4 linked regions of the Homo sapiens genome follow. The protein of the gene in region 2 purifies or fractionates together with the protein of the main gene of each other region. This does not show direct contact. Each region holds a gene or a part of one and is shown on either strand. Other genes may lie near its edges. The genes, in order: NUP160, NUP133, NUP98 and SEC13.

Region 1 (7,446 bases), on a different chromosome or scaffold from region 2:
TAATCCCAGCACTTCGGGAGGCTGAGGCAGATGGATCACGGGGTCAAGAGATCGAGACCATCCTGGCCAACATGGTGAAACCCCGTCTCTACTAAAAATACAAAAATTAGCCGGGCGTGGTGGCACACGCCTATAGTCCCAGCTACTCGGGAGGCTGAGGCAGAAGAATTAATCTCTTGAACCCGGGAGGCAGAGGTTGCAGTGAGCCAAGATTGCGCCACTGCACTCCAAACTGGCGGCAGAGTGAGACTCTGTCTCAAAAAAAAAAAAAAAAAAAGTTTTTGGCTTCAAATTCATTGTATAAGAGAAGCCCAGTGCTTTACAAAAGGATTCTTTGGCCAACGGTAGTGACTCACACCTGTAATCCCAAAATTTTGGGAGGCTGAAGAGGGAAGATCACTTGAGCCCAGGAGTTTGAGAGCAGCCTGGGCAACAGAGGGAGACCCCATCTCTAAAAAAAATAATAATAATAGAAAAATAGCCAGGTGTGGTGGCATGCACCTGTGGTCCCAGCTACTCAGGAGCCCTAGGTTGGAGGACTGCTTTAGCCCAGGAGGTAAAGGGTATGGTGAGCCTTGATCATGCCACTGCATTCCAGCCTGGGAAACAGAGTGACACCCTATCTTAAAAAAAAAAAAAAAAACTGAAAGGATTTTTTAAGGTTACAAAGGCTTCTGGCTGGGTGCAGTGGCTCACACCTGTAATCTCAGCACTTTGGGAGGCCAAGGGGGTGGATTGCTTGAGCTCAGGAGTTCAAGACCAGCCTGGGTAACATGGCAAGATTCCCATCTCTATTAAAACAACAACAAAAAGTTACATAGACTTTTTTTTTTTTTTTCCCTTTGAGGCAGGGTCTCGCTCTGTTGCCCAGGCTGGAGTGCGGTGGCACGATCTTGGCTCACTGCAACCTCTGCCTCCTGGGTTCAAGTGATTCTCCTGCCTCAGCCTCCCAAGTAGCTGGGACTACAGACGCATGCCACCACACCCGGCTAATTTTTGTAGTTTTTAGTAGAGACAAGGTTTTGCCATATTGGCCAAGCTTGTCTCGAACTCCTGGCCTCAAATGATCCACCCGCCTCAGCCTCCCAAAGTGCTGGGATTATAGGCATGAGCCACCACACCCAGCTTGCATAGGCTTCTTTAAATTACTACTTAGCTTCATGGATGGATTTAAAATACAATAACTCATATAATTGAAAATTATATTAGAATATTTTAGACTGACCTCCCACATAAAACAGAAATGCCTTCTGAGGCTTTTGTGATAGTTATTCAGCCTTTAATTGTCTCTACCTCCACTGACCACTTTGTCACTACCTCTTGTGGGAGTTATTATTCCCAAACTGTGTCATTGAAAAGGAAGCCTCTCTTCTATAAATCAACCCTTCAAGTATTTTAAGAATCTTTCCAGGTCACCTTTCTCCAGACTAAATACACCCAGTTTCTTAACTTTCTCTTGGGTGATGTGTGTTCCAGGTATGCCAAATCTCTATTATATAGTTTTATATTGCCTCTATGTCTTCTAAACTGAAACGTTTTCCATTCAGTTTTGGCTATTATATAGAAGTCTAAAATGTCTTTTAATGTTAGATTTTCTGCCGAGGAACTGAGAGGAATTTGGATCTTTCCTGGAGTGAACTGAAGAAAGAAGTTACTTTAGCTGTTGAAAATGAGGTGAGGCTTGGGTAGAGAAAGAATAAGAATTCCTTCCATCTTGATATAGGGCAGATTGGTACTGACCGAGGAATTACTGGAATTCTTCACTTGACCTTGTTTGTTGGAACATATAAATGTTTAAACCTTTTAACTAGAGAATCAGATACACATTTGCATAGTCTATGGCCTTTAATACGTAAGGAATATTCATTTGGCTGTAGCTTAGTATAATGATATTGGACAATTATGTTTTTTGTGGACAAAGATCCTGAATGGCATCAAAAGTTTAATTTCTTTCATTTCTTCTTTGCCAGCTTCAAGGAAGTGTAACAGAGTATGAATTCTCCCAGGAGGAGTTTCGAAATTTACAACAAGAATTCTGGTGCAAGTTCTATGCCTGTTGTCTTCAGTATCAAGAAGCCCTCTCTCACCCTCTTGCCCTACATTTGAATCCACACACAAACATGGTGTGCCTGCTGAAAAAAGTAAGTGAGCTAAAGCATAGAGAAGACCTTCTTGAGACAGTTCAGTGGCTGTTATAACAAAATGCCTTCAGAAAACAAAAAGTTCAGTGGCTCTTGCCGAATGTTAGTCTGGTGAATGTTGCGGTTAGCATTTAGGACTTTGCATTTGTATTTTTTCCCCTAAAATTGTGATTCATTCATTTAAATAGTTTTCTGTGTTATTCTCTATACTTTTTTTGTATTTTATTGTATTTATTTCTTTTTCTTTTTTTCTCTTTTTTTGAGTTGGAGTCTTGCTCTGTCACCCAGGCTGGAGTGCAGTGGTGTGATCTCAGCTCACTGCAACCTCCGCCTCTGGGATTCAAGCAATTCTCCTGAGTACCTGGGACTACAGGTGTACACCATCACACCCGGCTAATTTTTGTATTTTTAGTAGAGGTGGGGTTTCATCATATTGGTCAGGTGGGTCTTGAACTCCTGTCCTTAGGTGATTCACCCGCCTCAGCCTCCCAAAGTGTTGGGATTACAGGCGTGGGCCACCACACCCGGCCTATTTACTTTTTATATTGAAGTAATTTCCAACTTAAGGTAAGAGTTACAAGAATAGCACAAAGAATTCCTGTATACCCTTCATCTGGATTCATCATTTGTTAACTTCCATATGCTTTTCTTCTTTCTCTAAACAGTTTTTCCTGAACTACTGAGAAGTTAGTTGTAGATATCATGCTCCTTTATCCTTAAATATCCTTAAATATTTCAGCATGTATCTAAGAACACAGATATTAAATAACCACAGCCCAATTTAAAAATCAGGTTATTTGATATTGACATAATATTATACAGCTTATATTCAAATTTTGCCAAATATAACATATATATATATATAGTTTATATTCAGATTTTGCCAATTGTGCCCATAATTTTTTTTCCTGATCCAGGATCCAATCTTTTTTTTTTTTTTGAGACAGTCTTGCTCTGTCGCCCAGGCTAGAGTCCAGTGGTGCAATCTCGGCTCACTGCAACCTCCGCCTACTGAGTTCAAGCGATTCTCCTGCCTATCCTCCAGAGTAGCTGGGATTATAGGCACGCGCCACCACACCTGGCTAGTTTTGTATTTTTAATAGAGACGGAGTTTCGCCATGTTGTGACCAGGCTGGTCTCAAATTCCTGGGCTCAGGTGATCCGCCCACCTTGGCCTCCCAAAGTCCAGGATCCAATCTAATATATGTATTTAGTTATTGTGTCTCTTTAGCTTAACCTCAAACTGTTATCAGCGTTTCTTTGTCTTTCATGAGAATGATGTTATTTGAAGACTATGCTTGTTTCTTTTTTTTGTTTGTTTGTTTGTTTGTTTGTTTGAGGCAGGGTCTTGCTGTGTCACCCAGGCTGCAGTACAGTGGCACTCTTTTTTTTTTTTTTTTTTTTTTTTGAGACAGAGTCTCGCTCTGTCACCCAGGCTGGAGTGCAGTGGCACGATCTCAACACACTGCAACCTCTGCCTCCTGGGTTTATGCCATTCTCCTGCCTCAGCCTCACCAGTAGCTGGGACTACAGGCGCCCGCCACCACACCTGGCTAATTTTTTGTATTTTTAGTAGAGACGGGGTTTCACCGTGTTAGCCAGGATGGTCTCGATCCCCTGACCTCGTGATCCACCCACTTCAGCCTCCCAAAGTGCTGGGATTACAGGCGTGAGCCACTGCGCCCGGCCCAGTGGCACTCTTAAGGCTCACTGCAGCTTCAACCTCCCAGGCTCAGGTGATCCTCCCACCCCAGCCTCCCTAGCAGCTAGAATTAAAGCTGTGTGCCACCACACTTGGCTAATTTTTTTTTTTTAGAGATGGGGTTTCATCATGATGCCCAGGCTGGTCTTGAACTCCTTGGCTCAAGTGATCCTCCCACCTCAGCCTCCCAAACTGCTGGGATCACAGATGTGAGCCACTGTGCCCAGCCAAGACTTACACCTATTATTTTATAGAGTGTATTGCAACTTGGGTTTGCCTCATGATAAGATGCACATCTCAATTATTTTATACCTTTAAAATTTTACTGACAAAAATGTAACTGGAAAATTTGTATTTCCAGGGGTACCTGTCTTTCCTTATTCCCTCATCCTTAGTGGATCATTTGTATCTCCTGCCTTATGAGAACCTTTTGACAGAAGATGAGACAACCATATCTGATGGTAATAGTAATTGTTATGTCCATATTTAATCCCCTTCCTATATAAACCCTATGCTTCGTTTCACATGGATACAAAAAATATCGATTGCCACACCTGTCTTGGTCACTTTACCACACCACAAATATTTTAATGAACACTTAAGAGACCAAAGCATCTCTGAGACCTCAGATAGATTTCTTGTCATTTAATTATTAACATTTTAATGTAATATCAATCAATAGATTGTCATTGGCTTAAGACATAAATGTTAACTTTCTCTTATTTGTAGATGTGGACATCGCTCGGGATGTCATATGTCTTATAAAATGCCTCCGGCTGATTGAAGAGTCAGTAACTGTGGATATGTCAGTTATAATGGAAATGAGTTGTTATAACCTACAGTCTCCGGAAAAGGCTGCAGAGCAGATTCTGGAAGATATGATCACTATTGATGTGTAAGGAGAATTAGGGTAAAGTGCATTTCCTAATGGAAATTCAGCATTTTTAGCGCCAAAGTTGGAATTTTAATGTATGTTCCAGAGCGTACAGAATAGTAGCTTAAAGTCAAACTGATGCGCCATGATTCTAAGTACATATTTCTACTTTTAACAGAAAATTTAACACGACTTCAAGTCTAGAAATAGACTTATAAAATATGCTTTAACAATTAACCGAGCTAAAAATTCTAAAAAGCAAAAGTGTTCTTCTCATGTTTGTTTTGTGTGTTGTTTATGAAAAACTGAGAGGAAATTTGCTATGCATAGGGACTGTATCTTATATGCCAGAGTGATTATCTTCATTCCTTTATCTGGTTCTCTTGTTTCATAATGTATTTAGCTTATAGGACATATAGAACTTGCCTTACGTATTCTCGGTAGTAATAAGAGTTTTGTAATTGTCCTTATAGAGAAAATGTGATGGAGGATATTTGTAGTAAACTGCAAGAGATTAGGAACCCAATCCATGCAATTGGACTACTTATACGGGAAATGGATTATGAAACAGAAGTGGAAATGGAAAAGGGATTCAATCCAGGTAAATGACAGAACAACAAATGTGCCTCTTTGATTAAAACAATGATGCATTCAACTCCATTTTTCTTCTTTTTACAGCTCAGCCTTTGAATATTCGAATGAATCTTACCCAGCTCTATGGTAGTAACACAGCAGGGTATATTGTGTGCAGAGGGGTGCATAAAATCGCCAGTACTCGTTTCCTGATCTGCAGAGATCTTTTGATCTTACAGCAGCTGTTAATGAGGCTTGGAGATGCTGTAAGTACTGCTTGAGGGAAAACTTGTAAAATCTAAAACCTGTTATAGGCCTACAAGCACTTAGGAGCAAAATGTCAGCCCTACTAGCACAGATACTTTTGTCTTGGTTCACTGCTTTATTCTCCCAAGCTTGGCCTTATGAGATGCTCTATAAATATTTTTGAATTAAGAATGAATAAGCATTGTAATCCTTGTGAGAGTATAGATTAAGAGCATATATGGAGGGGACGGTGGGGAGGGAGAACATCAGAAAGAATAGCTAATGGATCCTGGGCCTAATACTTAGGTGTTGGGTTGATCTGTGCAGCAAACCATCATGGCACACGTTTACCTACGTAACAAACCTGCACATCCTGCCCATGTACCCTGGAACTTAACAGTAGATTTTAAAAAACATACATGAAGCAGATTGCTTTACTCTTAACCTTTGTATGTGTAGTAGTGGAAAATTTTCCCAAGTTGGCTCTCCCAAAATGTAGTATTATTAGTAACTATGAATGTGGTAAGCATACCCTTTAGTATGGAGGAAGAAAAAGAAAACTCTTTTTTTTTCCTGTCTCTCTCTCTTTTTTTTTTTTTCTTGAGACAATCTTGCTCTGTTGCCCAGGCTGGAGTGTGGTGGCCTTATCTCAGCTCAAGCAATTCTCCTGCCTCAGCCTCCTGAGTAGCTGGGATTACAGGTGCGTGCCACCGTGTCCGGCTAATTTTTGTATTTTTAGTAGAGACAGGGTTTCACCATGTTGACCAGGCTGATCTTAAACTCCTGACATCAGGTGATCCACCTACCTCGGCCTCCCAAAGTGCTGGGATTACAGGCATGAGCCACCTTGCCCAACCTAAGAACTCTCTACAGTGCAAGGCTTACCCTAAACACAGTTTTGAGATGCAGGTTTATCTTTGTGGTCCTCCTAACTCTATTCTGTGCTTTCTTTTTCATTCTGTTCTTCTTAGACCACCAGACTCTTGTTGCTAATATATAGTCCTAATCACCCACCCTACTGAATGTCCCATGCTAAGAAATTATTTTTCTCCCCACAGTCAGACATCCCATTTTTTTCTAAGTCAGTAATCTCATTTGAGCCTGTCAAAGAAGGAATCTAATTAAACCAATTCATATTAATGTGTAAATAGCCAAAAGTCCTTTGGGGCTCCCATTTTAATTCTGACTTAAAATGTATAAATGTACTTATACATTTTAAGTCAGAATGTATTAACTCAGGCTGGGCACAGTGGCTCACACCTGTAATCCCAGCACTTTGCGAGGCTGAGGTGGGCAGATCACTTGAGGCCAGGAGTTCGAGACCAGCCTGGCCAACATGGCCAAACTCCATGTCTATTAAAACAAAAAAGTTAGCGGGGTCTGGTGGCACACTCCTGTAATCCCAGCCATTCAGGAGGCTAAGGCATGAGAATTACTTGAACCCAGGAGGCAGAGTTTGCAGTGAGGCAAGATTGCACCACTGCACTCCAGCGTGTGTGACAGAGCGAGATTCTGTCTCCAAAAAAAAAAAAAAAGAAATTATAAACCCAGATACATCGCTAATGGTAGAATTTCAAGCAAGAGTAAGAAAAAGGCCAGATGTGGTGGCTCATACCTATAGTCCCAGCACTTTGGGAGGCCAAGGTGGCCTGGTTGCTTGAGCCTAGAAGTTTGAGACCAGTCTGGGCAAACCCTCATCTCTACAAAAAAATACAAAAATTAGCCGGGCATGGTGCAGCAAGCCTGTAGTCCTTGCTACTTGGGAGGCTGAGATGGGAGAATTACCTGAGCCTGGGAGGTTGAGGCTGCAGTGAGCTGTGATTGCGCCATTGCACTTCTGCCTGCATGACAGAGTGAGACCCTATCTCAAAAAAAAGAAAAAAAAAATTGGGAAGATAATTTGTTTAAGA
Region 2 (8,380 bases):
TATTTGACTTTTTCACATAAATTTCTAAGGTGAAATTGCCAAGTAATTATAAGGCTTTTTAATAGAAATTGTCCTCTTAAAAGATTGTACTTTTACAGTCCCACCAGATAGATATGTAAGCAGTGCTTGTTTCCCCATAGCCTTTTCAATATGAACTGCTACTATTTTATTTTTTTTTTTCTGCCCTGTTGCCCAGGCTGGAGTGCAGTGGCCAATCTCGGCTCACTGCATCCTCTGCCTCCTGGGTTCAAGCGATTCTCCTGCCTCAGCCTCCTGCGTAGCTGGGATTACAGGCGTGCACCCACCATGCCCAGCTAATTTTTGTATTTTTTTCTTTCTTTTTTTTTTTTTGGAGACGGAGTCTCACTCTGTGGCCCAGGCTGGAGTGCAGTGGTGCAATCTCAGCTCACTGCAACCTCCGCCTCCTGGATTCAAGTGATTCTTCTGCCTCAGCCTCCCGAGTGGCTGGGACTACAGGCACGCACCACCACGCCCCGCTACTTCCTGTATTTTTAGTAGAGATGGGGTTTCACCATATTGGCCAGGCTGGTCTCGAACTCCTGACCTCGTGATCTGCCCGCCTCGGCCTCCCAAAGTGCTAGGATTACAGACGTGAGCTACTGTGCCTGGCTAATTTTTGTATTTTTAGTAGAGACAGGGTTTCACCATGTTGGTCAGGCTGGTCTTGAACTCCTGACCTTGTGATCCACCCACCTCAGTCTCCCAAAGTGCTGGGATTACGGGCGTTAGCCACTGCACCCAGCCTATTTACTTTTTGAGATGGAGTCTCACTCTGTCACTCAGGCTGGAGTACAGTGGCACAATATCAGCTCACTGCAACCTCCGCCTCCCAGGTTCAAGTGATTCTCCTGCCTCAGCCTCCCAAGTAGCTGGGACTACAGATGCGCACCACCACACATGGCTAATTTTTGTATTTTTAGTAGAGACAGGATTTCGCCATGTTGGCCAGGCTGGTCTCAAACTACTGACCTCAGGTGATCTGCCCTCATTGGCCTCCCAAAGTGCTGGGATTACAGGTGTGAGCCACCACCCCCAGCCTCTAACATTCCTTTATTAAATTCTTTTAACTACCTAGCCTGAGGGTACCATCTGTTTTCTCTATGATTTTTTTTTTGAGACAGTCTTGATATATATATATATAATTATACTTTAAGTTCTAGGGTACAGGTGCACAACGTGCAGGTTTGTTACATATGTATACATGTGCCATGTTGGTGTGCTGCACCCATTAACTCGTCATTTACGTTAGGTATATCTCCTAATGCTATCCCTCTCCCCTCCCCCCACCCCACAACAGGCCCTGGTGTGTGATGTTCCCCTTCCTGTGTCCAAATGTTCTCATTGTTCAATTCCCACCTATGAGTGAGGACACGCGGTGTTTGGTTTTTTGTCCTTGCGATAGTTTGCTGAGAATGATGGTTTCCAGTTTCATCCAAGTCCCTACAAAGGACATGAACTCATCCTTTTTTATGGCTGCATAGTATTCCATGGTGTATATGTGCCACATTTTCTTAATCCAGTCTATCATTGTTGGACATTTGGGTTGGTTCCAAGTCTTTGCTATTGTGAGTAGTGCCACAATAAACCTACGTGTGCACGTGTCTTTATAGCAGCATGATTTATATTCCTTTGGGTATATACCCAGTAATGGGATGGCTGGGTCAAATGGTATTTCTAGTTCTAGATCCCAGAGGAATCGCCACACTGACTTCCACAATGTTTGAACTAGTTTACAGTCCCACCAACAGTGTAAAAGTGTTCCCATTTCTCCACATCCTCTCCAGCACCTGCTGTTTCCTGATTTTTTAATGATCTCCATTCTAACTGGTGTGAGATGATATCTCATTGTGGTTTTGATTTGCATTTCTTGCTCTGTCACCCAGGCTGGAGGGCAGTGGCGCCATCACAGCTCACTGCAACCTCCACCTTCCTGGCTCAAGCAATTCCCCAGCCTCAGCCTCCCACGTAGCTAGGATTACAGGCACACACCACCATGCCCAGCTAATTTTTTTGTATTTTTAGTAGAGATGGGGTTTCATCATGTTAGCCAAACTGGTCTTGAACTCCTGACCTCAGGCAATCCACCTGCCTGGGCCTCCCAAAGTGCTGGAATTACAGGTGTGAGCCACCACGCCTGGCCTTCTCTAGGATCTTATTTGACAGAGCCTACAAGGCCCTTCATGGTCTCTCCTTATTTCTCCAATTCCCTTTACTTTTAGTCTTTCAGGTTGATTTGTTTGTTTAAAGTCTCTGGCTCTAATCCCAGCTACTCAGAAGGCTGAGGCTTGAGGATCACTTAAGACCCGGAGTTTGAGACCAGCCTGGGAAATATAGCAAGACCCCATTTTTTAATTGTATTTTTTTTAGAATTTAAAATAAAATTTCTTGGGGAGACAGGGTCTTGCTATGTTGCCCAGGGGCTGGTCTTGAACTACTAGCCTCAAGCCATCCTCCCACACCTTAGCCTTGCAAGGTGCCGGGATTAGAGACGTGAGCCACTATGCCTGGCCGTGAGACCCCATTTCTAAAAATATATATATAAATAAAAAATAGGCAGGTGTGGTGGTACATGCCCATGGTCCCAACTCAGAGGCTGAGGCAGGAGGATCACTGAAGCCCAGAAGGTTAAGGATGTGGTGAGCTTTGATCACGCCACTGCACTCCAGCCTGAGCAACAGAGTAAGACCCAATCTCTAGAAAAATCATAAAGTAAAATAAGAATAAATAAAGTTCCTAGAATGCACCAAGTCCTTTGCTGCTTCAGGACCTTTGGCCAAGGATCCTCTGCCTGAAACATTCTTCCTCCTATTCTCTTATGCTTCATGTCTCAGGTTAAACGTCCTTTTCTCCCAGAGACCTTTATAGACCTCCATGCAAAAATAGGTAGCCCCAGTGATTCTCTCTCATACACTTTGCTCTTTTATTTCATAGTACACATCTCAGCTTGTAGCTGGATATTTGTGTTCATTTTTTCAGTGTCTGTCTTTCTCATTGGTCTGTAATCTCCATGAGGGTAGGACCCATGGGCTTTGTTTAGTTATAAGCCTTAGCAATTATCACATAGCCTGGCACATGGTAGGTACTCACTAAATCCATAACGAATGGATGACTTTTAGTGCTGTCTGCTTACTATCCTTCAATAGCCATACATTTGGACTCCAGGCAAGTTCTTGCTCAAAGGTGGCTGACAAGTCATTCTAGCTCCTGCAAACAACAGCTTTTACATTAGGATGCTGGGGAAACCACTAACCAGTCCAACAAAGCACAAGAATAAAATTGATCCCACCAATCCTCTCAGACACAACTATTAATACTCTCTATTGCCTATTTCACACCCCTCCTTGTAAGAATGAAACAGGGAGGAAATGCACTGGGCTCTCAGAGCTATAAGACTCAACAAGCTGCCAAGTTGGGTTAGACACCCAGGTGGGAGAAGGAGTAAAGCAGCTAGCCTATGTAACCTTGGCAAGATGACTGCTCAGATGCCACTGGTGCATAGATAGATGACTGGCTTCCCAGGGGAATGTCAACAACTGACACCCACACTGTGGTCTCCCACATGTGAATACGTCAATGTTTACTTAACCATTCCCTTATTTCAACACACGTTGAATGAAAGTCTACTATGTGTCTGTTACTGTGTGCCACAAAGGTAACAAAGTCACTGCTCTTGCTGTCAAGACATTTAAAAGGAAGTACTTGACAGACAATTATGAAAACAAACTATTATGCAGGATAAAAATACAGTCTACACACAGGAGCAGAGAGGACAAAGGATAAGGGGGACCTAATCCTGTGGAAGGTTTCACTGAGAAGGCAGCACAGAACTAACTTGATGCGGAAGGTAGGCGCCTTCTGGACCAACAAGGCAGGGAGTGCATTCCAGGTGAGAGAAACATGGACATGGGCACTGGAGGGAGATTTGGGTTTTTAAGTTCTCGGAATGTGGAGTGCAAGTGGGAAGTGCTGGAAGTACAACACGGACGGAAAAGCCAACCTGACTTAGATCACATAGGACCTTGCAAAGGAGCTTAGCAAATAACCTACTGGCAATGGTCAGCCACTGAAGCATTTACAGGCCCAAGAGCAGCATTACGTTTGCCTTAATTCATTGTGTTGGCAGTGAGAAGATAGAGTGGAGGAAGACTAGACACAGGTAAGGAACCCTCTCCCCATCTCCCCTACTCCCTCCCGCTGGCAGAAGAGGCTACGCAGTGGTTGAGGGAAAGGTAAGTACCAGAACCAGGGCAGAGGCAGTGCAAATGTGTGATCTAGTACAGACACGTAGGACCTTACAACGTATACCATGATCTTAGGGTGGAGGTAGGTGTGAGGGATGACTGCAGATAGAGCTCTTCTCTTTGCCTTGGACAACTGGCCAGTTTTACCAAGCTGGAACAGAGATGGTGGTAGGAGAGGGGTCCTAAAGGAAAACATGAATGCGCTTTTCATAAGTGGATTGTGAGGAGTTCGCAGGACTTCCAGCTGAAATTGTCCCCTAGGGAGCTGAATGATAGGGGTCTGGGGGTTTTGAGCTGGATCCAGGTTAGAGACACGGATTTGTGGCGTCATCAGCGTGGATGAGACTGCGCAAAGTTGAATGGGAAAATGGCAAACCTAGAAAACAACAAATATCACAGTGCGATACCAGTGTCAGCTTTACGGCTTTTCTCCGTCCTCAGCTTGGAATGAGGAACATCTTTCATTTCACAAGAGGTTCAGGAACTACCAGTGTGAAAAGAGGCTACGTTCAAGCTGCTGGAGGGCCAGTTCCACCTAGGCGCAGTCAAGAAGGGCGCCTGGCTTTCCGGCTTCACGTCCCTGGAAGCTCGGCACTGCAGCGGTTCTAGATCTGGGGCCGCCGGCTGCCTTCCCGACCTACCTCGCTGACTGGGCACCGCCCTTAACGTCACGATCCCGCCCCCGCCAGCGCTCCGACCACAACCCGCGGGAGCCATTGCGTTTGACGTCATCATCGCGCGCCATCTCTTCCCTTAGGTGTTTAAGTTCCGCGCGCAGGCCAGGCTGCAACCTGACGGCCAGATCCCTCGCTGTCCTAGTCGCTGCTCCTTGGAGTCATGTTCCCAGCCGCCCCTTCTCCGCGGACCCCGGGTACCGGGTCCCGAAGGGGCCCGCTGGCCGGACTCGGGCCCGGCTCCACGCCCCGGACGGCTAGCAGGAAGGGTCTGCCCCTGGGGTCTGCAGTCAGCTCCCCAGTGCTCTTCTCGCCGGTCGGCCGGCGTAGCTCGCTAAGCTCGCGGTAAGTGATCTCCCTGGTTGGGTCTGGCAACCAACAGCCTCACGGGCCGCAGTGGGCCGGATAGGTTGTTGTCTTTAGAAGCCTTTGGAACCGGGGCGGCGGAATAGAATGCCACAGTATTGGAAAATAGACCTTTTCCACTGCTGCAGGTAGTATCTGCTTCGTTTTGATTATCAGTTGATCAGTTGATTCCCCACTTTGCATTTTTCATGGATACCTTTGTGCAGAAGTGAAGTACAAACTGGATTTGCATCAGTGTTTACCTACTTCCCACCTACTACCCGTGTGATCTGGTGTAAGTCACTCGTGATTTTCTTCATCTGTGAAATGGCGATAATATATCTCACCTGAGCCAGAGGAGTTATTATGAATTGCCACGATGCAGATGTAAGGTGATGGTGATAATGAGGACCTACAACCCTGAAAGATCATTGTTTAATGCCTAACATACCAACTGACATTAATATCTGATGATTGGTAATTAAAGGGTTTCTAGCTACGGAATTTAACTTTCTAGGTAAATTATAAGGAAAAGGCTTTACATAAGTGAGCTAAGAGTACTGTGATAGTTTAGTTACTAAAACTGCTCGTTTGGAGCACCAGTAAAATCATCACACACACACACCCCTCCCCACCCCCAACACACACCATGTTCATAATTAACCTAAAACTTTAGTGTTTCTGCATAGTTTTCTCTGAATTCATCTATAAAAAATGAATTTTTCCCTGCAGGAAACACAAAGTATTGTGTCTTGAAATTATGGTTAAAATTTATCTGTAAAATTTTTCAGTACTTTAAAGGAGAAGTGGTTTTGAAAGAATACACTGTATCTTTGACTTTTTTTGGCATATTTTGAAAAGTTCTTTTCAAAGTGCTGATCTTGTCAGTGTTTTCTATTCCTTTTGCGAAAAGTTGGAGAATAAAAGCATACTTTATTTACTGTGTGTTGTTTTATTTAAATCTCTTCTTGTGATCATTTGAAGAAAAACCTTTGTTATCCTCTGTCAGGAAACAAAGCCCTTAGCCCTTCTGTATGTGCATCTTCTCATTTAATTCTCGTGATAAGACATAGACTACCTTTTATTCTGGTGACTTTACAATATTCTAAATGTTAAGAGGGTGAGCAAGAAATAAAGTTTTTACTGTGATATCTGCTGTTGAGGACCATGTAACAGCTGATGCTCGTAACCTGTTCGATTTCTTGCTTGGTTGTACAGATCTGATAGTTTTTTTTTTTTTTTTTTTAAAGAGACAGGGTCTCACTCTCTGTCGCCCAGGCTACAGGCTGGTGCCACAATGCCCGGCTAATTTAAAATTTTTTTTGTAGAGACAAGGTCTTGCCACGTTCCCCAGGCTGGTCTTGAACTCCTGGTCTCAAGCAGTCTTCCCGCTTCGGCCTCCCAAAGTGCTGAGATTATAGACATGAGCCACTGCTCCGGCCAGGTCTGGTGGACTCTTAAGCACCTAAAGCTAGATGAGCTTAAATCTCATCTAAGCCAATATTTATAAAATGTATTTGACCACAACATATGGTAAAAGCTGATGTTTTATATTCTGTCTTTCAAAAATGTTGAGATCTGCAAAATGACCCGCTGTTTGAAAAAAAAAAAAAAAAAACACTGGTCTAGTTAAGCCTTATTTCACAGCTAAGGAGGCAGAATTATAAGGAGTTTAAGTGAATACAGGCATGCATTTCAATACTAGAGTCTATGGGATTGAAGCCAAGTTTTCCTAAATCCTGTTTTGTTTTTTTTTTACATGAAAAATATTACATTTAATTACATGGTAAATATGAGCCAGTGTTAATTTTTTTCAAAGAACTCCTTACTGTGAAAATATATACATAAAAAATTAGGATAATGGAGAATTTTAAGTTACAAGTAAGGTAATATAGACTCTTTTCTTTAGGGGAACACCAACACGAATGTTCCCACACCACTCCATAACTGAGTCTGTGAACTATGATGTGAAAACGTTTGGATCTTCTCTTCCTGTTAAAGTCATGGAAGCCCTAACATTGGCTGAAGGTAGGTGTCATCTTTCCATTTACCTATATTAGCAGTTTAAAATGGAGCCTAGATGTGGCATAGAGATTAAATTTATGTTTTCTCTAGTATACCTTTACGTAAATGGTGAGAGATGGGTGGCCTGTCTAGTGTTTTTTTATTTTTATTTTTTCGAGACAGAGTCTCACTCTGTCACCCAGGCTGGAGTGCAGTGGTGTGATCTCAGCTCACTGCAACCACCACCTCCCAGGTTCAAGCGAGTTTCCTGCCTCAGCCTCCCAAGTAGCTGGGATTATAGGTGTGAGCCACCACGCCCAGCTAATTTTTTGTATTTTTAGTAGAGACAGGGTTTCACCATGTTGGCCAGGCTGGTCTTGAACTCCTGACCTCAGGTGATCTGCCCTCCTTGGCCTCCCAAAGTGCTGGGATTACAGGCGTGAGCCACCACATCTGGCCACCTGTCTTAGTTTTTTTTTTTTTTTTTTTTTTTTTTTTTAACTGTAATTGAGATGTATAATACATTCGAGAAGGAGAATGAGTTCATTTGAACACAATCAAATTAAGTCTTTAATGGTTTTAGGTACTGTACAGTAGTCCCCCATTATCTTTGGGGGATATCTTCCAGGATCCCCAGTGGATGCCTGAAACCTTGTATAGTACTAAACCTTATATATACTGTGTTTTTTTAATACATACACACCTATGATAAACTTTAGTTTATAAATTAGGAACAGTAAAGATGAACAACAGTAATAATAAAGTAGAACAATTATAACAATATACCAGCAGCACTACTCTTGTACTTCGTTTGGGGTCATTAACTAAAATGAGAATATAAGCATTGCATTACTGCGACAGTTCATCTGGTAACTGAGACAGCTACTAAGTGACAAACAGCTGGATAGTCTCAGGGGTGTCCAATCTTTTGGCTTCCCTGGGCCACTTGGAAGAAGAATTGTCTTGGGTCACACATAAAATACACTTACGATAGCTGATGAGCTAAAAATAAATAATGAAAAGGTCTGTGTATAAATCTTATCATGTTTTAAGAAAGTTTACAAACTTGTGTTGGACCGCATTCAAAGCTGTCCT
Region 3 (7,446 bases), on a different chromosome or scaffold from region 2:
ACCTCAAGTGATCTGCCCGCCTAGGCCTCCCGAAGTGCTGGGATTACAGGCACGAGCCACTGCACCTAGCTGAACAATATGAAGTTTTCTAACTCATGAGTATGGTCTGTCTTCCATTTATCTGTGTCTGGTGTACTTTCTTTCAACCATGTTTTGCAGTTTTGTATAAACAAGTCATTTACCTCCCTGGTTAAGTTTATTTGTGTATATTTTATTCTTTTTGATGCTACTATATATATGAAATGTTTTCTTAATTTTTGTTGTTAGTGTATAGCAGTGCAACTGATTTTTCCATGTTGATTCTGTATCCTGTAACTTTGTTGAATTTGTTTATAACTAGTAAGTTTTTTTGTGTGGCATCTTTAGGGATTTCTACACAAGATGTCATCAAAGAACAGAGATAATTTTACTACTTTTCAAAACTGTATTAACTTTTATTTTTCTTGCCTAATTGCTCTGACCAGGACTTGCAGTAGTATATTTGGGAAAAGTGGCAAAAGCAGGCATCCTTGTGTTGCCTTGTCTCACAGGAAAAGCCTTCTGTATTTGAGTGCCTTTATTATGAAAGAGTGTTGGATTTTGGTAAATACTTTTTCTGTATTATGATGATGATGATGATGTGGTATATTCCTTTATCTTGTTAAAGTGGTATGTTTCACTGACTTTTGTATGTTAAGCCATCCATGCATTCCAGAATAAATCTTTTGGCCATGATGTGTAATCCTTTCAATACGCTGTTAAATTCTGCTTCCTAGGGCTCTGTTGATGACTTTTTCATCAATATACTCATCAAGTGGTCTGTAGTTTTCTTTCCTTGCAGTGTCTTTGGTTACTGAATAAGGTAACGCTTGCCTCATAGAATGAGTGTGAAAGTATTCCCTTCTCTTCAATTTTTTGGAAGAGTCTGAGTAGGACTGGTGTTATTTCTTTAAACGCTTAGTAGAATTCACCAATGAGGCCATCTGATTCTAGGTTTTTCTTTTTTGACAAGTTTGTGATTACTGAGTCAATCTCTTTACTAATTATTGGCCCGGCACAGTGGCTCATGCTTGTAATCCCAGCACTTTGGGAGGGCGAAGTGGGCAGATCACCTGAGGTCAGGAGTTCAAGACCAGCCTGGTCAACATGGCAAAACCCTGTCTCTACTAAAAATACAAAAATTAGCTGAGCATGGTGGCGGGCACCTATAATCCCAGCTACTCTGGAGGCTGAGGCAGGAGAATCGCTTGAACCCAGGGGGCAGAGGTTGCAGTAAGCTGAGACTATACCACTGCACTCCAGCTTGGGCAAAGGAGTGAAACTCTGTCTCAAAAGAAGAAAGAAAGAAAAGAAAGAAAGAAGAGAAAGGGAAAAGAAAAGAAGCGGAAGGGGAAAGGAAAGGAAAGGATCGATTGATCTGCTCAGATTTTCTATTTCTTCCTGATTCAGGGTTGGTAGGTTATGAAGATAAATAATTTTCACTACAGCCCTTTCACTTGACTAAGATATTAGAAGCTAGGATCTCACACTAAAATAGAGAGTTAAGTATAGCCACAGCAGAAACAGGAATAAAGCAAAATACTATTAAAAAGAGTTTTTGAAATTAGCAGTTGGACCCAATAAAATCAGGGAGGCTGGGCAGCGTGGCTCACACCTGTAATCCCAGCACTTTGGGAGGCTGAGGTGGGAGGATCACTTGAAATCAGGAGCTCAAGACCAGCCTGGCCAACATGGTGAAACTCTGTCTCTACTAAAAATACAAAAATTAGCCAGGCATGGTGGCGGGCGCCTACAATCCCAGCTACTTGGGAGGCTGAGGCAGGAGAATCGCTTGAACCCGGGAGTCGGAGGTTGCAGTGAACTGACATCATTCCACTGCGCTCCAGCCTGGGCAACAAGAGCAAAACTCCATCTCAAAAAAAAAAAATAATAATAGTAAAATGAAATGAAATGAAATAAAATAGAATAGAATCGAATCCAAGGAATGTAAAAAAATGAATTAAAAAATAAAATCAGGGAAAAGGAGTTCAAAATCACAGTATAGCATTTCTTTGCCATTTATACTTTTAAATCAAAGTAGAGACAATAAATGTACTCTATAGTAAGGAAAGCAAGCTACAGAAGCATACATCTAAACACATTTATGTTTACAGAAAAAAAAATTGTGATTTAGCTGATAATTTTCTGTATGTACATAAACTCTTACCTATTTAGCCCTTCACCCACAGGTGGTTTTTGGTTATCATCTAAGTAGACAACTACTTCTTTCCTCCGGATATGCACAATATCATCCAAATTTAGATTTGTCAAATTCACATCTCCTTCAAAATAGATTGAACCATAACCTATAAATCAGAGCAAATAGTTAAAAATTCATTCTGTATGAAGGCAAATACCTACTTTACAACTATAGTGATTAAACAATCACAAGGAGAAAGCAGTTTTAAGTATTAGTATTTTAAATAATTCAGCAATTCCTAGACTGGTAAGAATGGGGACTTAGGGAGAGTAACTTCAATTACACTGTTATCTGATTTAAAATCTGCATTTTTCTTTTCTTTTCTTTTCTTTTTTTTTTTGGCAAGGTCTTGTTCTGTTGACCAGACTGAAGTGCAGTGGTCCTGTCTCACTGCAGCCTGAACCTCCTAAACTGAAACAATCCTCCCACCTCACCCTCCCAAGTAGCTGAGACTACAAGCACATATCATCAGGCCTGGCTCATTTTCTTTACTTTTGGTAAAGGTGAGGTCTCACTATGTTGCCCAGGCTGGTCTAGAACTCCTGAGCTCAAGTGATCCTCTCACCTCAGCCTCCCAAAGCGCTAGAATTACAGGTGTGAGTCACTGCGACAGGCCTAACATCTGCATTTTTATAAAACTCCCATTAGCCTCAAAACAACCTTCTTAAATCTCTTCCCATTTATCTATAATGACGCTATATAAACAAACCTTCGCACTTGGCCTGGCATATGGGTTAAAATGCCTGAGCTCTTTTTAATACAATATAGCACAGTGGCATTTCCCACAAGAAAATTATCAGTAATAATAACATGAAGTTCATGCTAAGTGTTATACATCTCTTGCCTATTATTCAATTTTCTCAGAAGTTCTTGGTATTTCCAGTATTTTCTTTAATTACAGAAAATTAAAATGACCCAAATAGTTACTAGCACCAAACAGGTATACCTAAGCCCAAAGAATATTATATGGTTCTGTGCTTCTCAGGAGGCTGAGGCAGGAGAAATGCTTGACCCCAGGAGTTGAGATCTGCCAGGCAATGTAGCAAGACCCCATCTCAACAGAAAAAATAAAATAAATAAAAATAAAAAAATTTACATGGTTCCAGTCTTTCTTGTTTTGTTACTTATCAATCAAAGTATTTAAGATTCAGGCCAAGGTGGGCCCAAATGTAGGAAAATGAAGATTCAGCTATCAAAAGCTTCCCCTAATTACAAAAATAAGGTGCAACTCTCTGGCTTAATCACTAAGTGCTAAACTCACACTTACCTTTCCGACCAATAGTGAAATCAGAGACAATGCACTCTCCTTTTTCATTGGTAATTTTAGCAAGGTCATCCATAGATGGAATAGTATAGTAACCAACCTTAGTGAGAATAATACCTGTGACAAAAAAAAAAAAAAAAACAGAAAAAAAAATAACCTGAAATAATCAGCAACTAAATCATCATATAAAGAGAAAATATATCAGAATGAAGAATTTTCCAAACTACTTTTCTACCAAACATGATTCCTAGGAGAAGGGGTGTGTGAGTGTGTGTGTGTGTGTGTGTGTGTGTGTGTGTGAAAAGCTTCATGGTCAAATAGGTTTGAAGAACATACATATGATACATCAAAGAGTCTAAAACTTACAGTAAATAGCCTATTAAACTCTGCTTAACCTCGTGTTTTTCCAGATTTAACCACAGAACATTATTTTCAAAGGACACCCATTAACATCCCGGACTATAAAAGGTATCTCATAAAATACTCTGAGAAAAGCTTAATCAGCTTTTTATTTTATTTTACACACAAGGATACCAAAACCTACAGTGGAAATAACTTGTGTTGGCTTATACTGTAATTTAACAATAGAAGTAGATATAAAACTCCAAACCCAATTCTTCTTGTTTCATTGCCTGTTTTGCATAAACCTCTTTTATTTTTCAAATTTACACTCCCAAATAAAGAGCTAAAAGAAAGATGAAAAATCCAGCCAGGCAAGGTGGCTCATGCCTGTAATCCAAGGACTTTGGGAGGCCGGGGTGAGTAAATCACTTGAGGCCAGGAGTCCAAGACAAGCCTGGCTAACATGGCAAAAATCCATTATCTACCAAAAATACAAAAATTAGCTGGGCATGGTGGCGGGTGCTTGTAATCCCAGCTACTCGGGAGGTTGAGGAAGGAGAATCGCTTGAACCTGGGAGGCAGAGGATGCAGTGAGCTGAGATCACACCACTGCACTCCAGCCTGGGCAACCAAGAGTGAAACTCGGAAGGAAGGGAGGGAGGGAGGAAGGAAGAAAAGAAGAAAGAAAGAATAAATTAAAATAGAAAAAAAAATACCAAAATAAAAAAAGCAGAGCGCTGAAAAACTCAAGGAAAGTAGTGGAACGCTGGTGTGCTTGCTTGCTCTATTCACTCCTTGTCCTACTTGTAGTCAGATATAAGGCTAACTTGCTCTCTGAGAGAAAAGTATTTCAGGCCAACATCAGACCAAACTCCAGCCTCCAGCAACACCCACTTGTATACTTGCTTCTTGGGAAGGGAACTCTAAATTGGGTGGCAGCAAACAAGGTAAATGAAAAAACTAGAATATAAAACTTCCTATTAAAAAGATATATAGTAGCATAATAAATTCATGTAGAGATACATACACAAATACAGATTAAGCACCTGGAATTCTTTTTTTTTTTTTTTTTTTTTTTAGGAGACAGGATCTTGGTCTGTCAACCCAGGCTGGAGTTCAGTGGCATAATCATAGCTCACTGCAACCTTGAATCCTGGGTTCAAGTGATCCTCCCACCTCAGCTTCCGTAGTAGCTGCAACTACAGGTACATGCCACCACACCTGGCTAATTACTTTTAAGTTTATTGTAGATATCAGGTCTTGCTATGTTGCCCAGACTGATTTCAAACTTCTGGGTTCAAACGATCCTCCCACCTAAGCCTGCCAAAGTGCTGAGCCACCACACCCAGGCTACCTGGGATTCTTACTGTCAAAGTATAAACTTCTTTCCTTATGATACTAAGTAACCAAATATATATATATATATAATGGCAATAAGAAAACTAAATATAAATTTTGGAGACACTTCAAGAATACCACAAAACACCCAAAATGGGCTGGGCATGGTGGCTCATGCCTGTAATCCTAGCACTTTGGGAGGCCAAGATAGGAGGATCACTTGAGCCCAGGATTTTGAGACCAGCCCAGGAAACATGGCAAAACAAAAGATGCAAAACTTAACGGGGTGTGGTATCATGTGCCTGTAGTGCCAGCTACTCGGGTGGCTGAGATGAGAGGTCCTGATCCCTGGAGGTTGAGGTTGCAGTGAGCCAAGACTGCGACACTGCACTCCAGCCTGGGCGACAGAGCGACACTGTCTCAAGAAAAAACAAACAAACAAACAAAAAACAATAAGCAATCTATCCGAGTTTACAAAGCCAGGGAAAATATCAGGATAGTCTCTTTGGCTATAAAATTTGGGTTCTTTAGACTACACCAGGATAATTAAAGATGTATCAATTTTCATACTCTAAGGTCCAAAGAGTATGTGAACTCTGAATCAACTAAAGCATAAAACTGTTTAAATATTAAGCTCTCCTATGTGGGATCACATAAAATAATACTTAAAATGCCAAACAGCTGACTTCCATATGTTGAATATCTGCAACAAGCAAGTCATCTCGAATGACTGGTAAGAGATTAAACATGCACCAATCTGAACCTGACCTGCTGGGTGCATATGGTAAGAATTATTTTCTATTTCTTCTCGGTCATCCTGAAGTGACTCATCATGAAAAGACGTTTCTTCACTGCTTCCTTCCAGCCCATTTCGCAAAGCAGCACGCATGTTTAATGCAACAATGGTATCATCCACACTGTTGCTGTTGCTGTGTTTATTTCCAGCACTTTCTGGGGTTTGAGGAATAGGTTTGGCAATAGGGTTAGTATAAAAATGTGAAACAAGGGAATCTTCATCTCCATCCTGCTGGTGATTCTCATCAACAGGTTTGCTTAGGAAACTAAATCTGCAAAGGAAAAGAAATAATACCTTAGCCTCTTGTAGTAGTAATAACAATGATAATAGCTAACTAATACCGAGCCTTTACTAAGTGCCTGGCACTGTTCTGGATAGTTCCATGTATTAAAAATTCACTTAATACTTACTACAGCAGTACTGTGAAACAGATAATTACTATCTCTATTGTATACTCTCCTATATGGAATCAAATAATTGGTTAATTTTAAGATTAAAAACTGAAAAAAATGTTAGATTTTTAAGATTACAATCAACAAAATGTTAAAAAATGCTTTATAAATAATAATAATAATAAAAAACACTAGAATTTTATCCAAAAGAAAAAAAAAACAGGAGTACAAAGGTGTCTATACAAAGGGTTTCTTTTTTTTTTTTTCTTTTTCGTGATACAGCCCTCAGGAGGCCCTGAGAACTTGTGCCAGTATATAAGGATTTTTACTGAAGCACTGTTTTGAGTACAGGAATACCGGATAATCTAAATGTCCACTAACAAGGAACTGGTCAAGTTATCTTACATTCACAATAATGACTTATGCAATCATTAAAAAAGAAAAGACAAATATATTCATACAGATAATGGAAAGGCATTTCTAATAAAATAAATGGAAATAAGCAGGTTACAGAATATATCATTCGTGCATAATCTTTATATAATAAAATATATTTATAAAGAAAGAAATTTCGGCTGGGTGTGGTGGATAACGCTTGTAATCCCAGCACTTTGTGAGGCCGAGGCGGGTGGATCGCTTGAGGTCAGGAGTTCAAGACCAGCTTGACCAACATGGCGAAACCCTGTTTCTACTAAAAATACAAAAAAAATTAGCTGGGCGTGGAGGTGCATGCCTGTAATCCCAGCTACTCAGGAGGCTGAGGCAGGAGAATTGCTTGAACAATTCACATCAGAGGATACAGTGGGCCGAGATCGTGCCACTGCACTCCAGCCTGGGTAATAAGAGCAAAACTCCATCTCAAAAAAAAAAAATAAATAAATAAATTTCTGATATGAAAGAATATATACCTAACTATTAAGAATCACTGTACAAGGCTGGGCACGGTGGCTCACGCATGTAATACCAACGTTTTAGGAGGCCAAGGCGGGCAGATCACTTGAGGTCAGGAGCTCGAGACCATCCTTGGCTAACAAGGTGAAACGCCGTCTCTACTAAAAATACAAAAATTAATCAGGCATGGTGGCGGGTGCCTGTA
Region 4 (7,551 bases), on a different chromosome or scaffold from region 2:
CCAACCATAGCATAGAGATGACAAGAGAGAGGCAGTCCTATTTCTGAGACTGGACCAATTAAAATGACTGCACTGGCTCAAAGGACTCTGAACCTGTCTTGTCCTGGGTCCTCCAGTTGTTGGAAGCCACTCTTTTCCCCAACCATGCTGAAATGCCACCTTTACCACACACTGATGTCTTACATAGACTTAGATCTATTTCTGGAACTTCTCTTCTCTTCGCTTACTTGGGTGTCTCATCTGGCACCAGCCATACAATTTTAACTATTGTCAATTTCTAATGTCTTATTATGTGGTGGGATGAGTCCCTTCACTCTTCTTTTACAAAATTTCCTAGTTATTCTCTCACATCTATTCTTCCACATAAACTTTAAATTGTGCCCAGTCCTCCACCCCCTGTCCCATTCCCACCCCCAAATTCTGGGCTCTGTCATTCCCTGTGCCATCATCTTCCCCCCATTGTAATTACTGTCCACTCAGGGCTGTGAAATAGACTATGTTCTGTAAAGAGGGACAAAAAGGGCATCCTGATCTTGAGAGAAGCCTGCTGTTCCTCCCATCATTTCACCTGCCCCCTAAGCCCAGGAGTTGTCATGAGAGGTCACCAGGCCCCCACTCAATCTCAGCTTGGGAACCAAAGTCACCCACCTTGGTTGTGTTGGGGTGGACCCGCCATCTGTCCCTGGTCCAGACGAGAAAGAGGAGTCTCTCCTAGGCCTGGAGCTGGGAAAGAATGTGTGGCCCAGTTGTCTGCACTTCTAATTCTCATCATGGAGAAACCTTTATTCCTATCTCCCTTTCCTGAACTGGTTTTTTGTTGTTTTTGTTTCATTTTGTTTTGGGGGGATAGTTTCTTGCTCTTTAATTTGGAGTCTCCAGTACCTTTGGGATGCAGGCAGTTCTTGCCTGGGCCTTCTCGGAACCCTCACTCCCCTAGCCCACTCTTGCGCTACCTGCAGGAGGCTGCCAACCTGGTGCATTCTGACAAGCCTCCCACCCAAATCTCTCTCCTGCCATTGTGTCCAAAATCCCACCATTAGAGGCTCTTGTAGGGAAGAGCGTTTCTTGAAGGCTTTTAGGCCTTCCAGAGCCAGGAGGGAAGTCAGACAATAGCAGGAAGTCCCCAGGCCTTTTCAAAGTTCCAAACCAAGCTCTCCTGATTTTAATGTAGAGATCATACCAACCCAGGTGGGGGAGGAGGGTCCCCAGCCCCAGGCAGCAGCCATCACCCCCTCCACTGAAAACAATATTGGAGGCTGCTTTGGGACTGCCCTTCTCAGCCCCCTAAGTCTGTTTTGTAATGCCTGTGGTGCTCTCCCTCCTGGACCTTTCCTCTCGGGGGTCACCACACTTTGCTAACTCTTGTGTGCACATATTTTATAATAGAGTAGCGAGGGAATGGTGCCGCCTCCAGCTTCCGTAAGCTGCCCGGGCTCTGGGGGGCTCTGGGACAATCGGGGCTGGGAAGTGACTGTGCTCTTATTGTACACTCTTTATTTCTCTGTATCTTTGGCTTGTGCTCTTTGTAATTAATGGGATTTGTCTGCCTTTTCAACACTATACTGAGCAATAACAATAAATGCACACGTGGAAATGCAGACACGGTACACATCACAAGGCCTTTTTCTGAAGGACAGCTGGGTCCCCGCCCTTCGTGGAGTTGAACTCAGGGGGAAACTGAGTCCCTGGGAGGGAAATGCACTTTGCCCAAGGGCCCACAGCTCAGCGGGCAGTCTCTCTCCTTCCACTAGATCACACCTTTTGAACACCCACCATTTGAGGGAGACAGGCTCACCCTGCCATGAGCCATTAACCTATGAGGAATGGTTGACCATCTCATAGAAGAAGACTGGGGAACGGGGCCTCAGGACGAAGCGGAGGAGGTTTGGGGGCAAGGGGTGGGGGGGCAAAAATCAGGGAAAGTTGGCCTGATTTGGGGTCTGGATTAACCAGAGGGAGGAGATGCGGAATACAGACACTGGATCTAGGTGGCACCCCCCTACTGGGGAGAGGGGTAAGGCAGAGGGAAGCCTGGCACCTGAGGAGTCTGGACTTCACAAACCTCTGCTGAACATTGGCAGAGAAAGAGAATATGCCCAGACCAACAAGTAATCCCTAAGGTTGGCCCAAGGGTTGAGAGTTACACACACACTCACACACTCACACAGCTCTTCTTAGGTTGAACTGATCCCCAAATCAAGCGCCATAGGCCCATCTGACTTCCATACGCAGTTTCATATCCAAGGGTTCATTTAATCCCAATATCAACCTTCAGAGGAGGTATTATTATAATTCTCACTCAAAAGAGCAGGAGACAGCATCTCAAAGAGGTGAAGAGCATGCCCACCTGGTAAGCAGGAGATCCAGCACTGATACCTAGCAGTCTTGATGCCAGCATCTGTACTCTAAACTGCCATATTACAGCGCCTTATGGGCCAAATACCTTACAGCAAATACCTTAATGAATAAGATACAGTTCTGTTGCTTGTCACAAATCCCCAATCTCTTCAACATCAGTGTCTACACAAGGAAATTCTTTTAATCACAATTATGCCTGATGCATTATATTTACATCTAATATGCCCTTGTCCTCATTTTCCACTCAAAGAAAGTGAGGCTCAGAGAAAAGTGACTTGGCCTTATCACCTAGAAAGTCAGTGGTGCAGCTATAGAGCCAAGGCCAGAGCCTGTTCCTTGAAGAACAGGAGATCTGGCAGGACGCAGCGGCTCACACCTGTAATCCCAGCACTTTGAGAGGCCGAGGAGAGTAGATCACCAGAGGTCAGGAGTTTGAGACCAGCCTGGCCAACATGGTGAAACCCCATCTCTACTAAAACTACAAAAATTAGCCAGGCATGGTGGCACATGCCTGTAATCCCAGCTACTCAGGAGGCTGAGGCAGGAGAATTGCTTGAACCCGGGAGGTAGAGGTTGCAGTGAGCCAAGATCATACCACTGGACTCCAGCCTGGGCAACAGAGCTAGAGTCCATCTCCAAAAAAAAAAAAACAAAAAAAACAACAGGAGATCCAAGAGATCCCCTGAAACCTGCCTTTGTTCCCTGCTCTAACCTAACCACCACCCCCTCACACCCCTGCAACAATTTCTCCACTAGAGGGCAATAAAAAATCTTGAAAGCTGCAGTGGGGTAGAAGAGTTGCCCAGAGGCCTGGCCCTTAATTCTAACACCCTACTCCCCTGGCCTCCCCTCCAAAGCTCCTTGACAGTTTGGGTCTATCACATTCTCTGAGCCTTAACATCTTCCTTCAAGCAGTGACCATCTCCAGCTAGGGTCCTTACTCCCAGTTTCAGCAGAGGAAACTGAAGGACTGTGACTTGCCCAAGGGGAGCCAAGGCCTCCCCCAGCTCATCTGCCTCCTTAATGTCACAAGGGGCCCAGGGCTAGACCATATGTGGCTGAGGCGGGGAGCCCAGGCTCTGTCCTCCAGTGTGGCATTCTCACTGCGCTTGTGGGGAGCCTTCAGCTGCCCTACCTTGTGAAGCCAGAGACCTGGGGTTGGGGACCCTGAGGATTAGGTCTGGGGCTCTAGCTGCAGGAGCCTGGCTGAGATCCTTCATTGCCTAGGGGGGTCTCCTTGATGGGACTTACTCAGGACCCCAGGGGATCGGTTTGGAAGGGGCAGTCCTATATAGGGGTTAGGGATGGCAGGGCCAGAGGTCCCAGCCTCTGGCGAGGGGCATTCCCTGGCCTCCTCTGCCCTGGTCCCAGTCCTTGGGTACTGAGAGGGAGACTACAACAAGGAAGCACTAGGACAGTCTACTTACTCCTAAGATGTCACTCATCCTACAACATTCATCATAAGACCAGTCGCACCCAGAGCCGTAGTGAGGCGGGTGAAGCTGCAGATAGATAGATGATAGATAGATAGATAGATAGATAGATAGATAGATAGATAGATAGATAGATTTTTTTCTTTTTTACAAGAGTGTCTCTCTGTTGCCCAGGCTGGAGTGCAATGGTGCAGTCACGGCTCACTGTAACCTCCACCTCCCGGGTTCCAGCGATTCTCCTGCCTCAGCCTGTAGCTGGGACTACAGGCGCGCGCCACTATGCCCGGCTAATTTTTGTATTTTTGGTAGAGACGGGGTTTCACCATGTTGGCCAGGCTGGTCTCGAACTCCTGACCTCAGGTGATCCACCCCCCAGCTCAGCCTCCCAAAGTTCTGGGATTACAGGCATGAGCCACCGCGCCCGGCCGATAGTTATATTAATCCTTTCTTTCATTTATGGATCTCAGGAAAAGGGCAGACTTGGTCGGGAGAGTAGACCCACCAGAGCTTCAGATTCCAAAGCCCTCCGGGTCAGGGTAACTGCGGCAACCAGAGCCCCAGCCCTCTGGTCTCGCACGTCACTGGAGGATAGGGGCTGGGCCACGGGAGGGCGGGGCGCGCCCTCTGGAAGGCGCGGAACTGCTGTGCGAGCCGAGCGCGTTGCTGCCCGGAGGCTCCTACGCCACGGCCCGTCGGGCCCGGCGCCGGAAGTGAGCTGTTCCGAGGCGCCGCCGGGAGCTGCCACGTCCGAGACCTGGAGCAGCCACCGCCGCAATCATGGTGAGTGTTGGTACTGAGGAGGCCTAGCAGGGTGAAGGCCACGGTCGCGGCCTTCACGGGTTCCTCGGCCGTCCTGAGTCCCAAATCCCAAGCTGGAGCCGTTCAGCTCCCCTCCACCGCTTAGAGATTTGGGGGGCTCTGGCCCCGTCCTTGCGGACCATTCCGAGGGGAGTCCAGAGGTGAGGCCGAGGAACCTCCCTGACTTTGCGGGGCGCGCCGCTCCTGCGTCTCCTGCCAGTCTCCCTTCCTTCTTTTCGGTCAACAATTGAAAACAAAACGAGGAACAGCAGAGGAGCTACTGTATACCGAGCCCTCAGCATTGTTCGTAATCTCCGCCTGCTAACAGCCTTGTGAAGAAGGTGCTATTCTTCTCAACACTTTACAGATGAGGACACTTGAGGTTCGGAGACGTGGAGCCTCTTGCACAGCTGCTTAAGTGGTAGTAGAGCCGAGATTTGAACCCTCCTAACCATTCCTTTCTGCCGCCTACTGCAGCTCCCAGCAGAGATGATTGAACTGTTGCTCGGGGTAGGGCCCCCAGGTAGGATGGGCACCTCGGGAAACGTAAAGATGGCCTGAACGACCCTCCGAAGGCAGGGGCTCAGGGTTTTTTAAGTCTCTGTGGCATCTGCAGTGTACATTCACTCCACACTTACTCCTTGAGTGAATGAATGACTGAAGGAGAACTAAAGAATGGAAGTATCTGGGCTGAGCCTGGAATATCTAGTACATGCATTCTTTTAGAAACATGGGTGTGTCTCAGCAGCAGGTTTGAGGGAACCTGCAGGAACCTAGAAATCAGAACACTGTGTTCTTGTTCTGCAGAGGGTTAGGTGTAAATCACTCACCTCTGGCTCTTCCACTGCAGGTTAGAGTTGAGGCTTTTATGCTCTGACATTCAGCTCATCCTAAATGAATTTTTAACTCATTATCTGATCTCAAAGAGGTGAATTATTTTGAGTGCAGGTGTTAACAGGGACCAGATAATACCAGGTCCCTGGGAAGAAGTACTCTAAGAAGTTCTCTCTCTCTCTCTCTCTCTCCCCACCCTCCCTCTCTCCCCACTCCCTCTCCCTCCCCCCTTCCTCTCCCTCTCCCTTTCTCTCTCTCCCCCTCCCTCTCTTCTCTCTCTCTCTCCCCGCTCCCTCTTCCTCCCCCCTTCCTCTCCCTCTCCCTTTCTCTCCCGCCCTTCCTCCTTCCTTCCGTCCTTTTCTCTCCCCCTCCCTCTTTCCTCCCCCCCCCCCCCCCCCGCCTTCTCTCTCTCTCTCTCTCTCTCTCTCTCTCTCTCATTCAGAAGTGTGGTTCATCAACCCTGACTGGTGGGTGAGAGTGGTTAGAATTAAATGCTGATTATTTCTAAGGTCCTTTGGTAACCTGGTTGAAACTACCTCTCAGTAAACTTTCTTCGTGAACCTACTTAACCGCAGCTTTACAGAACTCAGTGTAACAACTGCTTTACATTCTAGACAGGCAGCCTGGTGGAGTGAAGTTTTGTGGACTCAGCATTAGAAGGTTAGGGGATGGGGCTCTTTTCCCAGGTCTGCCTTGAACTAGCTCTGTGACTTTGGCAAGTGCTTTCTCTTCTCTGGGCTTCTTCATTTCCTTAGTCTGTCGCAGGTCTCTGATTGACTGTGCCCTTGGTACCCTGCCCTCCCCGCCTTCCTGTGCACTTTGTAACCTATACAGCTCGGCACATGGAGGAAACTCCTTATTGTCCTTACTTGCCTTTGCAGACTTCGGGGACCTGGTTTTTAGAGAGTCTAGAATCTGATGAGAGAACCTGTGCTTACTTGGTGTGTACCTCTTGAACTGCTTTGCAGCCATCCTCTTCCACTGTCTGCCTTTCTGAAATCACAAGTCAAACTTTATACCTACAGGGCTTGTGCTGGAAAAGATGAAATGGGGAAAATGGTAAGAAATGTCTGTTCCACACTGAAACTTCTTTTAAGTCCTCTTTTCTATCCCAAGAATTTAAGAGAAGAGTGGTTGAGCAAAGAAAAAAAATAACAGCTTTTGTTCATTTACTTATTCATTCAGCAAATAGTCGCTGAGTTCCTTCTATTTGCAAAGCACTGTGCTGGATGATTTGAGGGGATTTGAAACTGCAGATGGCTCAGACCATGGCTCCAAGGAGCTCACCTTCTAGTGGGGAGAAGAAACAGCATAAAGTGTTGTATGTGTTCCTTGCTGAAGATATGCAAGAGAGTCCAGCCATTTGAGGGTCTGAGAATCTTCAAGAAAGGTGATGGATGGCCCTTTTTGAGCTGGACCTCAAAGAATAGATAGGAGGGAGATGACCATGACACCATGTTCCAGCCCTACAAACTGTTCAACTCTGGATCCCACTACGTGACGGACCAGGGAGCAGCCTCAGGAAACACTCGAATCAAGTCTCCCAGTCTGAAGTAATAACCCCGTTATGCATAAACTGCCTGGAACATCAGAGGCTCTGTCATCCAGGAAAGGAACACCAGCTGTAGCTCCCTTGGGGTCTCTCCTCAACCTTAAGGGTAGCCAGGACTGCTTGCCGTTTCCCCACACACATCAGGCTCTCTCAGACCTCTTTGTCTCTACTCGTGTATTCCCTCTGCTTGGCTGCTTGGACTGGTATTTTCCCCTGTGCCACCTGCAAATTCCTACCCATCATCTAGGGCTCAATTCGTGTCTACCACCCCAGCCCCTCAGGCTCCTACAGGACACACAAACCACCATTAAATAATTTATCTTGCGACACTAGCATTATTCGCGAGCTTCTCAAGGGCAAAAAGTTCCTCTTATTTGTGTCTGTATATCCAGTTCCTAGCACAGTGCTTGGCAGAAAGAAGGTACTTAGAATGAATGCTTACTGAATGAATGAATGAATGAGTGAGTGAACAAACAAATGCAGTCAAGAACTTGAGATGGTTGTATTCTAACTGCCATGAGTTAATTTACCAGTGATATCTTTGGTTCTAGGTGTCAGTAATTAACACTGTGGATA

What was found.
Region 1: the proteins of NUP133 (region 2) and NUP160 purify together in Homo sapiens (co-immunoprecipitation; 4 studies listed by BioGRID and IntAct, with this or other methods). This does not show direct contact.
Region 3: the proteins of NUP133 (region 2) and NUP98 purify together in Homo sapiens (affinity purification with mass spectrometry; 6 studies listed by BioGRID and IntAct, with this or other methods). This does not show direct contact.
Region 4: the proteins of NUP133 (region 2) and SEC13 purify together in Homo sapiens (affinity purification with mass spectrometry; 6 studies listed by BioGRID and IntAct, with this or other methods). This does not show direct contact.

What each region holds. Positions count from the first base shown.
Region 1 is NC_000011.10:47,810,174-47,817,619, reverse strand, and holds part of NUP160 (nuclear pore complex protein Nup160), read left to right. Parts: intron 1-1,590; coding exon 1,591-1,674; intron 1,675-1,970; coding exon 1,971-2,141; intron 2,142-4,204; coding exon 4,205-4,304; intron 4,305-4,572; coding exon 4,573-4,738; exon of another isoform or gene 4,739-4,753; intron 4,754-5,190; coding exon 5,191-5,318; intron 5,319-5,395; coding exon 5,396-5,556; intron 5,557-7,446. UniProt on the Homo sapiens protein: Functions as a component of the nuclear pore complex (NPC). Involved in poly(A)+ RNA transport.
Region 2 is NC_000001.11:229,504,969-229,513,348, reverse strand, and holds the start of NUP133 (nuclear pore complex protein Nup133), read left to right. Parts: upstream 1-5,007; 5' UTR 5,008-5,099; coding exon 5,100-5,281; intron 5,282-7,190; coding exon 7,191-7,309; intron 7,310-8,380. UniProt on the Homo sapiens protein: Involved in poly(A)+ RNA transport. Involved in nephrogenesis.
Region 3 is NC_000011.10:3,717,227-3,724,672, forward strand, and holds part of NUP98 (nuclear pore complex protein Nup98-Nup96 isoform 1 precursor), read right to left. Parts: intron 6,230-7,446; coding exon 5,931-6,229; intron 3,600-5,930; coding exon 3,486-3,599; intron 2,325-3,485; coding exon 2,186-2,324; intron 1-2,185. UniProt on the Homo sapiens protein: Plays a role in the nuclear pore complex (NPC) assembly and/or maintenance. NUP98 and NUP96 are involved in the bidirectional transport across the NPC. May anchor NUP153 and TPR to the NPC.
Region 4 is NC_000003.12:10,318,070-10,325,620, reverse strand, and holds the start of SEC13 (protein SEC13 homolog), read left to right. Parts: upstream 1-4,508; 5' UTR 4,509-4,568; coding exon 4,569-4,571; intron 4,572-4,579; exon of another isoform or gene 4,580-4,750; intron 4,751-4,956; exon of another isoform or gene 4,957-5,112; intron 5,113-6,304; exon of another isoform or gene 6,305-6,341; coding exon of another isoform or gene 6,342-6,482; intron 6,483-7,526; coding exon 7,527-7,551. UniProt on the Homo sapiens protein: Functions as a component of the nuclear pore complex (NPC) and the COPII coat. At the endoplasmic reticulum, SEC13 is involved in the biogenesis of COPII-coated vesicles.